Linked DNA regions of Homo sapiens: region 2 is linked to region 1. The links come from fine-mapping of genetic effects on gene expression. A gene starts in region 1. The other region holds a variant in brackets. All regions are shown on one strand. Distances are from middle to middle.

Region 1 (2,906 bases):
CCAGTTGGCTCCGGGGAGCTTTTTCTAAGACTGACGCCCCCCATGTTTGGTGACATTTTATATACGCCACCTAACAAACTTCTATGACCTGTCTTGCTAGGGTGGGGGGAATAAAAAGAAAAGACGACAACAACCTAGAAGGAAATAACCCATTTCCTCTGCAAAACCATCTTCCCTTGCTACGGAACTGCTTGGCGACACCAGCGCTTTCCTGCGGTTGGCAGCCCGGGAACCTTGAAGTTGCGCGGGACCGGCCGTCAGCCGCTGACAGTTCTGACAGTCCAGGTGGAGGACCCGCGCTCTGCCGGGAAATCCCCGGCTTCCCGCTGGGGACAAACGGTGGCCGCCGCAGGGAGTGCTGTGTTTGGGGGTCGGGGGAGGCAGGGAGCCCCACTTTCCCTCGCGCTGCCTCAGTGCCCGGCCTGCGTGCGCGCGCCAGCCTGGGGTAGGAAGGTACCTCTGACATTTCGCTCCTGCGACGCGCAGGCAACTTCATGCGGAAAATCCGCGGAGGGGCTGAGCCTGGAGCCCCCGACTCTTCCGACGTCCCGGAGCCCCCAACCCGGGGCAGGGGGCACTCAAAGGCCAGGCGTGCCTTTAGGTATCTTCCGGGACCCAACTGTACCAGGGTCACGGACATTCAACTCTCAGCTACCCACACCGGCGCGAGCGCGTCATCCCGGTGGCCCTGGGCATTCCTAACTGTCAGAGCGAATATTTTTGGGAATAACCTCTCCAAAATGTGAAGATGTTCAGTGGTCTCCTCCGCCTCCCATCACAAAAAAAGGCCCCAACACATATTTTTTAAAAAACAACCCACATCCCACAATCAAACTTTTAAACATGTAAAATAATAAACCAACTCACCAAGTTAGAAGGGAAGAGAATAAACCCCCAAAGGCTCCCAATAAGGCGGAGGCTTGGCCTCCCCCTCCTTATAAGCCGCTCGGTAACATGAGAAAAGGATTAACCCCTTAGGGGGCGGGCCCGACTCTAGCGCAAGTTGGCTCGGGCTGGTGAGGCCCGAGCGCCCGGGCCCTCCACCCACTCCCGCGACTCGGGCACCCGAGCCACACCCTCCCCCCGCCCCCCACCCCGGCCGCCTGCGACCCGGGCCGTGCGTGCTGCCGCCCGCGCCCCGGCCCCGCGTCGCTGCCTAGCTCTTATCCTATACCGGCTGCAGCCGGTCTCCGCCGGCCTCGGGGGCGCGCCGCCGCCGACCATGTGCTGCGAGCGCTGAGCGCAGCCAAGGAGGGGGCCTGCCTGGCGCGCGCGCGCCGTCCCACGTGGACCTGAGCCGCGCCGGTCGCGCGCCCGCCAGCCTGCCGCCTGGGCTGGGGGTCACGAAAGGTAACCGCGTCGCGGTCCGGGGCCGGGCCGCCCCCGCCAGCGCCGCCGGGGTCCTTGGCACAACGCCCCGATCTCCCAACCCGGGTGCGCCTCTGCGCGCGTGACCCGCCCAGACCCCGGAGCTTTGCTGCAACGCTAGTAGGAGCGCGAGCGTGCAGGGTGTTGGGGGTGCCTGCATCCTGTCTCGGAGCACCTCGGCCAGGCGCGAGCGCGCGGGTCCCCGTCCCCACCCCCGGGCGCCTTCCCGGCGCGCCCACCGCCCAGTCCCGCCCGCGCCCTGAGGATTTAGGGATTTAGCGGCGAGGGGGAACACGCGCGCGCCGGGGCTGATCCCGCGCGGCGCTCGCGGCTGCGGCGGCTTCGCGCCCGCCCCGGGCAGAACAGGTTCCTTCCAGTTTGGGTGTGAGCTGCGCGCGCGGCGCCTGAGTTCCTCCTGCAGCGCCCACTTCCCCCAGTTTCGTCAACTCGCGCACCCCCACAGTTCCCCTTCCGGCAGTGGGGAGGGAGTGTCGCAGTGGGCCCCAGGGAGCGAGCGGCCGGGCCGCTGCGGGTGCCTTGCTTCCCCCACTTTGCTGCACCGGCAGCAGCGGCAGCAACAGCATCCGCGTTGCGCGAAAGGAATGTGAGCAGCCGGGCTGAGTCAGCATCCCCGGCCCGGGGCGCGCGCGCACCCTCCAGGCAGTGGCGGCGTCGGCACAGGTGCATGGCTCCCATACCCGCGGGGAGCCCTCTGTAAGGGACCTGGAGGTTTAGACAGTCCGTGCCCCTCATCCCGTAGTCCCCGACCCCAAGGTCACCGTGAACTAAGCGGATGATGCACGCGAAATCTCAGGAGCTCCTCATGGGGACAAAGCATGTGTCAGATCCTAGACATTTCAGAGCCTGCGGGGGCGCAAACTTAGCTTCTTGGTCTCTACCTCACATCCCGAGGGCAAATTTGGAAACTGCTCGGAAGCAAAGGCCATGTTATTTGCATTCGTATGCAGACTTTGGCGCCGGCTGCTGCCTTCATTGGGGTTCGGAGAATGTGGTTCTGATGTCAGAAACTCAAGAGAGCCTAGTTTGGGAGTGCATGCACGGAGGGTCGCCACCGGGAGGAGTCGGCGATCTGAATTTTAATAAAAATCCTTCCTTGCTCGCTGAGTTCTCTCACCATTTTGGGATAGGCTCTCCTGAGTTAAATGCCATCCTTTGCCGTTGACAAGTTCTGGTTGTGTAAGTGGGGAGAAGATTCGTTGGTACAGGGTGCCTTGTATGGCCAGTAGTGTACAGCCAAGGGGCCGCTGAGCAGCTTTGCAACCTTGTAGGCGTAATTTAACCTCGTAGAGCGTTAATTTCTCCAGATCTGTAAAATGGGGATGGAGGTGGTATTCCCAGAATTGGAGGGTTTAATTTATGGTACTTGTAAAGTGCGGATCGCAGTGACTGGCATTTGGTAAGGCCTCAGTACCCATTAGCTCTTGCTGCTGTTACGATTTATGCTTTACCAAGGCCAATTAATTGCTGACTCCAACACACTCCCTGTGAGAGAGAGCCCTTTTTTGAGTTGTTCTTCA
Region 2 (2,906 bases), 23 kb after region 1:
TGAACCCGGGAGGCAGAGATTGCAGTGAGCCGAGATTGCGCCACTGCACTCCAGCCTGGGTGACAGAGTGAGACTCCATCTCAAAAAAAACAAAAATAAAAACAAAAAAACATTACTTTGTCCTTTCACAGTTCGGAGAGCCAGAAGTCCAAAATCAAGGTTATGACTGAAGGCTCTGACAGAGAATCCATTCCTTGCCTCTCTCCTGGATTCTGGTGCCTGCTGGAATCCTTGGCATTCTGGGCTTCTAGACTCCTATCTCCGCCTCAGTTGTTATGAGGCGTTCTTTCATGCCAGTGTCCAGACTCCCCTCCTCTAATAAAAATACCAGTCTTTGGATTGAAGGCCCACCCTACTCCAGTATGACCTCATCTTAACTTAATGACATCTGCGAAGACGCTATCTCCAAATAAGGTCACGTCACAGGTTCTGGATTGATATGAAATTGAGGGGAACGCTGTTCAGTCTGGTGCAATTAGCTGTATTACGTATCTCTCTCTCTCTCTTTTTTTTTTTTTTGAGACACAGTTTCACTCTGTTGCCCAGGCTGGAGTGCAGTGGTGCAATCTTGGCTCACTGCAACCTCCGCCTCCGGGTTCAAGCGATTCTCCTGCCTCGGCCTTCTGAGTAGCTGGAATTACAGGCACCTGCCACTACGCACGGCTGATTTTTGTATTTTTAGTAGAGACGGAGTTTTGCCATGTTGGCCAGGCTGGTCTTGAACTCCTGACCTCAAGTGATTCACCTGCCTTGGCCTCCCAAAGTGCTGGGATTACAAGCGTGAGCCACCATGCCTGGCCTACATATCTCTTTTTACTCCGCTTCTAACGCAGTCTATAATGTAGTAGGTGGTCAGTCAGTATCTGTCGCATTAAAGACTAAATGTCATGCTTAAGAGGGCAGGAGCCAGACAGTTTGAGCTCAAATCCCAGCTCTGCCACTTCCTATCTGTGGCCCCGGGCAAACTGCATCATCCCCTGGAGTTTTGCTTTCCTCTTCTGTAAGTGGGGACAATGATAGCACCTCTACCTCACAGGATGTTGTGAGGGTTAAATTAAGTAATCTGGGCCGGGCACAGTGGCTCACACCTGTAATCCCAGCACTTTGGGAGGCCGAGGCAGATGGATCACCTGAGGTCAGGAGTTTGAGACCAGCCTGACCAACAAGAAGAAACCCCATCTCTACTAAAAATACAAAAGTAGCCAGGCGTGGCGGCACATGCTTGTAATCCCAGCTACTCGGGAGGCTGAGGCGGGAGAATCATTTGAACCCGGGAGGC[G/A]GAAGTTGCAGTGAGCTGAGATTGCGCCATTGTACTCCAGCCTGGGCAACAGAGCAAGACTCCATCTCAAAAAAAAAAAAAAAAAAAATTAAGTAATCTGTAAACCAGGTGTGGTGTTGCACATCTGTGGTCCCAGCTACTCCAGAGGCTGAAGCACACGGATCCCTTAATGCCAGGAGTTCAAGGCTGCAGTGAGCTATGATCATGCCATTGTACTCCAGCCTGGACAACAGAGTGTCTCATAAAAAAAATAAAAAATAAAAAATTAAGTAATCTGTGTAATCAGTTAGCATAGAGCCTAGCATACAATAGATAGGGTTCTATGTTAGCTATGGTTATTTTTGTTATTGTTACTAGAAATGTCCAAATGGAATGTCAGTGTGAATTGGCTAATCTGCATGATAAAAGGTCCAGTGACAAAACTTGGAAGGATGAGGTGGAGTTCCAGTGACAAATTCCTGTTAATCCCTATGCTGGCTGTGCATTGGGGCCAACACCTTTATTTGAATCAACACAACAGCTGCAACAATCACTAACCCTTACCAAGCTCTTGCAAGGTGCCAGGCTCTAGGCATTACCCTGGCTAATTCTTGGTACCACCCTACTTTTCTCTTATATCTCAGATGAGGAAATTGAGGTTAAGTAACACGCCCAGAGTTGGTGAGTGGCCAAGCCAATATTCAAACTCAGATTTCCTCATTCTAGAGCCTTATTCTTTCAGGGCTGGGCAGAACTGGGGAATCAGCAAAGAGAATCCATCAAGATTTGGCCAGCTTTCCCATATGGCTGTCAAAGAGCAGGAGGCCAGGCGTGGTGGTTCACATCTGTAATTCCAGTACTTTGGGAGATCGAGGCGGAAGGATTGCTTGAGCTCAGGAGTTTGAGAGCAGCCTGGGCAACATAGCAAGACTTCATCTCTACAAAAAAATCAATAAATTAGCTGGGCGTGGTCCTACCTACTCCGGAGGCGGAGTCAGGAGGATTGCTTGAGCCCAGGAGGTTGAGGCCACAGTGAGCTATGATCGTGTCACTGCACTCCAGCCTGGGTGATGGAGTGAAATCCTGTCTCAAAAAAAAAAGGAGATTGGAATCTCATCATTTTTTTTCTCCCTTTGGTGCTAATGAAGGATTTTTGTGCTGTCCAAGCATAAGAGGCAACCTGAGAAATGGGATTGTATTTAGTTATTTATTTTAAGATGAAGTCTTGCTCTATCGCCTAGGCTGGAGTGCAGTGGCGCGATCTTGGCTCACTATAACCTCTGCCTCCCAGGTTCAAGTGATTCTCCTGCCTTAACCTCTCGAGTAGCTGGGACTACAAGTGTGTGCCACCATACCTGGCTAATTTTTGTATTTTTAGTAGAGACAGCATTTCACCATGTTGGCCAGGCTGATCTTGAACTCGACCTCAGGTGATCCACCTGCCTCGGCCTCCCAAAGTGCTGGGATTACAAAGTGCGTGGGTGGCACCCAGGCAGAAATGGGATTTAGATGTCAGTCATCAAAATGGTTGATGCAACCATCGTTCAGGAGGCTCACCCAGCCAGGGATGTGTGATGGCTGCAGTTTCAGGTGCCTGCAATCTTATCCTGCCTACTCCAGCTTCATCTCCAACCCTCTCCTCATGTTC

The links. PIP is the estimated chance that this variant, and not a neighbour inherited with it, causes the effect.
Region 2: its variant is fine-mapped to the expression of ARSG in whole blood (TOPMed, PIP above 0.99).

What each region holds. Positions count from the first base shown.
Region 1 is chr17:68,290,219-68,293,124 of GRCh38, forward strand. ARSG (arylsulfatase G) reads left to right here and starts at 1,277. Exons shown (of 12, transcript NM_001267727.2): 1 at 1,277-1,350. SLC16A6 (solute carrier family 16 member 6) reads right to left here and starts at 909. Exons shown (of 6, transcript NM_004694.5): 1 at 868-909. RefSeq lists silencers at 1,045-1,734, 1,101-1,275 and an enhancer at 2,135-2,364.
Region 2 is chr17:68,313,179-68,316,084 of GRCh38, forward strand. The region is part of intron 2 of ARSG (arylsulfatase G); the gene reads left to right. Among named protein-coding and RNA genes, the nearest start is that of ARSG, 23 kb to the left of the region's middle. The variant G/A (reference allele first, on the strand shown) is at 1,280.